Homo sapiens: one gene and its partner. The protein of the gene in region 2 interacts with the protein of the main gene of each other region in a pairwise test. Each region holds a gene or a part of one and is shown on either strand. Other genes may lie near its edges.

What was found.
Region 1: the proteins of IGFL1 (region 2) and IGFLR1 interact in binary tests that used the Homo sapiens proteins (3 or more experiments, as listed by UniProt).

Annotation. Positions count from the first base shown.
Region 1 is NC_000019.10:35,739,599-35,743,896, reverse strand, and holds the start of IGFLR1 (IGF-like family receptor 1 isoform a precursor), read left to right. Parts: upstream 1-1,444; 5' UTR 1,445-1,501; exon of another isoform or gene 1,502-1,507; intron 1,508-2,668; exon of another isoform or gene 2,669-2,673; 5' UTR 2,674-2,716; coding exon 2,717-2,873; intron 2,874-3,332; coding exon 3,333-3,517; intron 3,518-3,808; coding exon 3,809-4,187; intron 4,188-4,270; coding exon 4,271-4,298. Other genes in the region: U2AF1L4 (splicing factor U2AF 26 kDa subunit), read left to right, coding at 1-88, 1,094-1,299. UniProt on the Homo sapiens protein: Probable cell membrane receptor for the IGF-like family proteins. Binds IGFL1 and IGFL3 with a higher affinity. May also bind IGFL2.
Region 2 is NC_000019.10:46,228,479-46,231,952, forward strand, and holds IGFL1 (insulin growth factor-like family member 1 precursor), read left to right. Parts: upstream 1-1,263; 5' UTR 1,264-1,296; coding exon 1,297-1,321; intron 1,322-1,629; coding exon 1,630-1,683; intron 1,684-1,795; coding exon 1,796-2,039; intron 2,040-2,342; coding exon 2,343-2,352; 3' UTR 2,353-2,765; downstream 2,766-3,474. UniProt on the Homo sapiens protein: Probable ligand of the IGFLR1 cell membrane receptor.

The DNA of each region.
Region 1 (4,298 bases), about 10 Mb from region 2:
CCCGAGGTGGCTTCTGCAACTTCATGCATCTGCGGCCCATTTCCCAGAACCTCCAGAGGCAGCTCTATGGGCGGGGACCCAGGCGCAGGTACCTCAGGACCAGCCTGCTATGTCTCCTCATGTCCTAAGGCCCCTATATCCTCAGATGAGCCTAACCCTAAGCCCCAGTAACCACGTTCCCAAGAATCTTTTTTTTTTTTTTTTTTTTTTGAGATGGAGCCTCACTCTGTTGCCCAGGCTGGAGTGCATTGGCACCATCTTGGTTCATGGCAACTTCCGCCTCCCGGGTTCAAGCAATTCTCTGCCTCAGCCTCCCAAATAGCTGGGATTACAGGCACCTGCCACCATGCCCGGCTAATTTTTGTGTTTTTAGTAGAGATGGGGTTTCACCATCTTGGCCAGGCTGGTCTGAACTCCTAACCTCGTGATCCACCTGCCTCACCCTCCCAAAGTGCTGGGATTACAGGCGTGAGCCACCACTCCCGGCTGACTGTTTTTTTTTTTTTTTTTTTTTTTTTTTTTTGAGACGGAGTTTTGCTCTTCTTCCGCAGGCTGGAGTGCAAAGGCGCAGTCTTGGCTCAGTGCAACCTCTGCCTCCCAGGTTCAAGCAATTCTCCTTTCTCAGCCTCCCAAGTAGCTGGGATTATAGGCACCTGCCACCATGCCTGGCTAATTTTTGTATTTTTAGTAGAGATGGGGTTTCACCACGTTGGCCAGCCTGGTCTCGAACTCCGGACCTCAGGTAATCCACCCATCTCGGCCTCCCAAAGTGTGGGGATTACAGGCGTGAACCACTGCGCCCGGTCATTCCCAAGACTCTTATACCCTAAGAGTAGTTCTGAGCTCCATCTGGAGACCAGTACCTAAGTCCCAATCCCCAAACCAGCCTGAACCCCTAATCCACGACCAGCCTGGATTGCCACCCCTGATACTGGCCACTGAGTTCCCCTGATACTGGCCACTGAGGTCGTGTCTTAGAACTCTAGTTATTTCAGCACCCTCCTGCCTCATCCCAGAGCAGAGAGGCAGGCCTGCAGGATCTCTGCACCACTCCTCAGGGTTCTAACAGAACTCTCAACGCTCCTATTCCCAGGTCACCCCCGAGGTTCCATACTGGCCACCATCCCCGAGAGAGGAACCATCGGTGTTCCCCTGATCACTGGCATGGCCGCTTCTGAGGCCCTGGCCCCCTTACCCTTCACCCCCAACAGGGACAGATGTTCCTGGCAGGACCTCTCCTCAAAGCCCCCTTCACTCTCCTGCCCCATCCTTCCCAGGCTCCCGGGCTCCATAATGTAATCTGTTCAGCATGGAGACCTTCTTCTACCGCCCCTGTCTTAATAAAGCTGCGTGTTTCACTTCGGCATCAACTTGCTTTTGCTGTGGTTTGGCATTTCCCTCCACCCACACATGTGACGAAAAGGGGAAACAAGACTGGGTCCTGGCCACAACTTCAGCTGAGGAACTTGGCACGGCCAGCTTGGGACCCAGGACCCTAACGGTACTGGTAGGGTGGGGACACCTTTGTGCTGAAAACCTTAGCACCTCCATCTGAGGCTTATTCAAGGGGGAGAGACCTGGTTGTGGCAGGTGGGAGGAGCCCTAGCCCCAAGGAGATTAGGATTCAAAGGTGAGGTGAGGTGCTGGGAGGTGGTCTCCAGCCAGTATGGGGCTGACTCCTCCGTGCCTGCCGAATTGTGATGGGAGTTAGTAATGCCTTACACTTAAACACTGAGTTTACTGTATGTGAGGTGCTGTTTTCAGCACTTTAGTTTGTTTTTGTTTTTTTTAAGGAGTTTCATTCCTGTTGCCCAGGCTGGAGTGCAATGGCACGATCTCAGCTCACTGCAGCCTCCACTTCCCAGGTTCAAGCAATTCTGCCTCAGCCTCCCAAGTAGCTGGGATTTACAGGCATGCGCTACCACGCCCGGCTAATTTTGTATTTTTAATAGAGACAGGGTTTCACCATGTAGGCCAGGCTGGTTTTGAACTACTGACCTCAGGTGATCCACCCACCTGGGCCTCCCAAAGTGTTGGGATTACAGGCATGAGCCACTGCGCCCGGCGGCCAGTTTTTTTTGTTTTTAGAGATGAGGTCTTGCTGTGTTGCCCAGGCTGGTCTGTAATTCATGGCTCAAGCAATCCTCCTACCTTGGCCTCCCTAGTAGCAGGGACTACAGACGTGAGCCACTGCACTTGGCAAAGTGCTTTGCTGTTTTTTTTTTTTTTTTTTTTTTTTGTAAAGATGGGGTTTCATTTTGTTGTCCAGGCTGATCTCTCGAACTCCTGGGCTCAAGTGATCCTCCTGTCTTGGCCTCCCAAAGTGTTGGGATTACAGGCATGAGCCACCACACCCAGCCCCTGCTTTACTTCTAATGACGGTTCTAATTCTCCACAATAACCCTATGAGACAGGTGCTATCATTGTCTTATTTTAGGGATGGAAAAGGGAGGGTGGGTGGGTGAGGACACGGCAGAGGTGGGATATGCATTCTTGCAATCTAGATCCGCAGCCCTGTTAGTCCCCTAGTGGCCTTGTGGGCTTCTCTGATAACCGGCTCAGTTGGGGGATGAGGGCTCGGGGGTAGATTCCCGGCTTCCGAAGAGGCGTGAGAATTCTGTTCCCCCACATCACCGCGTCCTTTCTTCTGCCCGATTTCCCCGGAAAGTGTAGCAGAGGCGCTGTGTTTGGAAGTCCCGCTATCACGGCCCCCCAGATGGGGCCTGGACGATGCCTCCTGACGGCCTTGTTGCTTCTGGCCCTGGCGCCACCGCCGGAAGCCTCCCAGTACTGCGGCCGCCTTGAATACTGGAACCCAGACAACAAGTGCTGCAGCAGCTGCCTGCAACGCTTCGGGCCGCCCCCCTGCCCGGGTGAGAATCCGAGACCGAGCCTTGCTTGGGCGGAGCTTGCAGGTGATAGGGAGCGGGGAAGGGGCGAGGTCTGTGGGCTACGGGCCAGAGAGGCTTGCTTAGGGGTCTAAGCGGTGGGCCTTATGCAGATCAGACAGGGATGGCAGGCAGAGCCTGTGCAGATAGTGCGGGCTACCGTAGGGCAACAGCGAATGGATATGGCTGGAGAGGCGGGATAGGGGCCGCGTGGAAAGGGTGGGCTTTATGTAGAGAAGCCGGGAGTGGGCGGAGCTTCGTGCGGAGCAGGCTGGAGGGGGGTGAAAAGGCGAGCCCGGAGAAAAGTGACAAGACCGGGGCGCACGCTAATAGGCTGGAAGCGTCCTGGAGGGGCGGGGCACGCTGGGATAGGGCGAAGGGAGAGGGCGTTGCCCGCGCAGGGGCGGGCTAGGCGGCCGCACTGGAGCGCAGCTTTCCCGCTAGACTATGAGTTCCGGGAAAACTGCGGACTCAATGACCACGGCGATTTCGTAACGCCCCCGTTCCGAAAGTGTTCTTCTGGGCAGTGCAACCCCGACGGCGCGGAGCTATGTAGCCCCTGCGGCGGCGGAGCCGTGACCCCTACTCCCGCCGCGGGCGGGGGCAGAACCCCGTGGCGCTGCAGAGAGGTGCAGATGGGACTCCCGGCAGGGCAAGGGCGTGCTGGAGGTGGGGGGCCTAGATGTAGGGAGCCGGCGTAGCCCCACGTAAGGGGTGGGGCCGTGGTTTCAGGAGGTGGCTGGCCTGCAGGGGTCGGGAGGTCCTAGGTTAAGGTAGTTGGGCCTTGCGGGGCCCAACTACCTTATCAGATACCGTATCAGATGGGATGTGGCCCCATTAAAGGATATAAAGTTGGGAGGTTTGGGAGCGGGCAGGAGTGGAGTGTGGCCTCCAGCTTTACTCCAACCCCTTATCCCCAGAGGCCGGTCCCTGCCAAGGGGCACTGCCCCCTCACACCTGGAAACCCAGGCGCCCCTAGCTCCCAGGAGCGCAGCTCACCAGCAAGTTCCATTGCCTGGAGGACCCCTGAGCCTGTCCCTCAGCAGGCCTGGCCGAATTTCCTTCCGCTCGTGGTGCTGGTCCTGCTCCTGACCTTGGCGGTGATAGCGATCCTCCTGTTTATTCTGCTCTGGCATCTCTGCTGGCCCAAGGAGAAAGCCGACCCCTATCCCTATCCTGGCTTGGTCTGCGGAGTCCCCAACACCCACACCCCTTCCTCCTCGCATCTGTCCTCCCCAGGCGCCCTGGAGACAGGGGACACATGGAAGGAGGCCTCACTACTTCCACTCCTGAGCAGGGGTTAGTCCTGGAGGAGCCCCGGGGCAGGGAAGGTGGACTGGACGCCCGCTCTTCCGCACCTTTACCCTTCCCCTTTCTTCCAGAACTGTCCAGTCTGGCGTCACAACCCCT
Region 2 (3,474 bases):
AGGTGGGTGCTGAGCACTCTGGTATTTATTGAAGTCATTTCTCTGCAGCCTCTTCCTGTGTCTCCTGCCTCCAGAGAGAAGCCCCTATCCGTGCTCCCCAGGAACACAGATGCAGGATCTTCCACACACACAAATCTAACCACATCCATGCCCTGCTAGGAGCCAGCCATGGTGCCTAGAGGGTGACAGGTCACCTTGCCTGGCCCGGAGGAGAACGGCTTGTCCATGCCATGTGTGGCCTGTGAGCTTGAGCGGAGGAATTCCTGCAGAAGCTGGGCAGGGGTAGGGGGGCACAGAACTGACCCAAAACAGCTCCTTCCCCTCTGTCCTCACATCCTGACCCCAAGATGGCTCTTCTCAGGGAAAATCACAACCCAACCCTCTGAAAAAGCACATTAAGGAAAAACACCTTTGAGAATCTCAGGGGGGGATGTGGAATTTCTCCACCAGAACTTCACAGTGATAATGACACCAAACACAAGAACGACAATAACCAAAATCAGGAGTTTTATTCTCCTACCTTCTCTCTCTCTCTCTCTCCTCTCACTGTCATGAACGTCACGAAGACACTGACTTTGCGTTTTCTACTCAGCACTGCATCACTGGTGTCTGACACGAAGCCTGGGACATGTAGGCTCCCAAGTGGACCTGTCCTGGGTAAATGACCATTAATGAGACAGAGAAGGAGATGAAGAGCCCCCAGAGGAGTGTTGAGTCCCAGGGGTCCCGCCAGCTCCACTCCCACCTTCCAAACCTGTGAAAGTCAGGTGCCTGAGTCACACAGTCTCTCCCACCTGAATGCCATGAGCTGCAGGTGACTGAGAAGTTACTGGATTCTTGACCATGTGTTTCGGTTGTGAGGTTGGGACCTAATGGGACCCTTTGAAATGATGTCATGGGTTAGCAATGTCCCAAGGAAACTGAGGAAAGTCATAGCTCAGTAGGATCCTGTGGAATCGCTGTGTGGACATGTGAGTGTCGGAGAGTGTTAATGCCAGGAGCATCCTGAACCTTCCTATTTTCCAGAGGACTCAGTGTGGGGGACGATTGGGGCACATAGCACAGAGAAGGTGGAGGGTGTACCGCTTCTCTCCTGATTACAAAGGTGAGATCAAAGCTACAATGACACGTACCCTGCCTGGCACCTCTCCTGCCCAAGGACCCAGCCTGTCTCTGCAGGACTTGCAGGAGGGCAGGAAATGCCATGACATCACCAGCTCCACTAGAAATATGGGATAAAAGGAGTGGCTGAGATCTGCTGATCCCCTCCTCACTCCACTGCAACCACCCAGAGCCATGGCTCCCCGAGGCTGCATCGTAGGTAAGGAGGACAGGACCCCATTCCCACCTGAGCCCATCTCCAATCTCAGCCACCACCAGGGCTCTCTCCCTACCCCAAACTACACCTCATCCCTGTTCCCATGCCCAGCCAAATCTCCAGGCGTGAATTGCTCACAGCAATTCCCCATCCATAGTGCCCAGATCAGCCCCATCCACAGCCCTGTTTCAGTCCCTGAGCTGCTCAAAGCCATACCGAGCCCTGGTTCCACCCAGTCTTCTTCTAAATGTCAGTGCCAGTCATATCTGTGGCTGTCCACTCACCCCATCTTCCCTTTCCCTTTCCCACAGCTGTCTTTGCCATTTTCTGCATCTCCAGGCTCCTCTGCTCACACGGAGCCCCAGGTGAGCCCAGGAGTGTTTGGGAAGCTGGAGGAGGGGTACACCTTCCAGGGGACCCCAGGCTGGGACCCACCTGCCACTACCTCCTGGATCTCACCAGCTCTGTCTCCTCCAGTGGCCCCCATGACTCCTTACCTGATGCTGTGCCAGCCACACAAGAGATGTGGGGACAAGTTCTACGACCCCCTGCAGCACTGTTGCTATGATGATGCCGTCGTGCCCTTGGCCAGGACCCAGACGTGTGGAAACTGCACCTTCAGAGTCTGCTTTGAGCAGTGCTGCCCCTGGACCTTCATGGTGAAGCTGATAAACCAGAACTGCGACTCAGCCCGGACCTCGGATGACAGGCTTTGTCGCAGGTGAGTCCTGTCCCCTCCGTGGGATTGTGGGTGCAGGGTAGCTGCATGCCTGTTCTGCCCTGGGTGGAGCCCCCATTCTCCTTGTCTCCCTGTCTCTGCCCCCTGCTTCTATTCAATCCACCTCTCCCTTTCCCTACACCTGTGTCTCCATCCATTTTTATTTCCCTCTCAGAATCTCACTCTCTCTACCCCGCTGTCCTCTCCTCCTGGCTCTCCTGTCCTCATTTCTGCCCATGTTCAGTCTCGCCCCCATCTCTGGCCATCTCTGTCCCGCTCAGTGTCTCTCTCTGTCACTATCTCCAGTGTCAGCTAATGGAACATCAGGGGAACGATGACTCCTGGATTCTCCTTCCTGGGTGGGCCTGGAGAAAGAGGCTGGTGTTACCTGAGATCTGGGATGCTGAGTGGCTGTTTGGGGGCCAGAGAAACACACACTCAACTGCCCACTTCATTCTGTGACCTGTCTGAGGCCCACCCTGCAGCTGCCCTGAGGAGGCCCACAGGTCCCCTTCTAGAATTCTGGACAGCATGAGATGCGTGTGCTGATGGGGGCCCAGGGACTCTGAACCCTCCTGATGACCCCTATGGCCAACATCAACCCGGCACCACCCCAAGGCTGGCTGGGGAACCCTTCACCCTTCTGTGAGATTTTCCATCATCTCAAGTTCTCTTCTATCCAGGAGCAAAGCACAGGATCATAATAAATTTATGTACTTTATAAATGAATGCTGTAGAATTCATGAATTAGAGAGCTTGGACTGTTGAAAGGGGTCACAGAGGGTGACGTGGGGCCCCTTCTCTCTGTCACCCTGAGGCATCTGGGCCTTTCCATTTGTTCTGTTCGTGCACACACTTATTTTCTCTTTTTCCATTTATTTTTAAATTTATTATTTTGTTATTTGTGCTCGGTGACTAGGACCCTGGCCGCACCTGGGACAGGGGCCACCCTCCTACACCAGCCTCCACCACCCCATGGCTCCCTGAACCCAGTCACAACATCGGGAGCAGCCCAGGTGGGGTGGGGAGGAGGTGGGGATCGCGAGAGGGCTTCGGAGAGGCACTCCCTCTCCCACCAGTTCTGGGACAGAACAGGACCCGGCTGTTTGTTCTTGATGTACGTTAAGGAGATGCAGACAGACTGGGAAAGAACGGAGGTTCTTTCTCCAACTGGCTATGGGGAGAAGGTCAGAGTAGCTTACCAGACCAACTCAAAGCTACAAACTTCTTTTTCTAGTGCTTATATGCATTCTAAGCTCCACGCCTATGTGCGGAGTGCACCTGCAAGACAGCGTGTTTCATTCTTATCAATATCTAATCTTTAACTAGTGTCCAGGGTCTGGAAAGCTTTCTCCAGAGTCTTGGAAAGTTTCTTAATCTTAAATGGACCCCAGTATGAGGAATATGTGGAAGAATGCTATTATTATTTGATCAGATT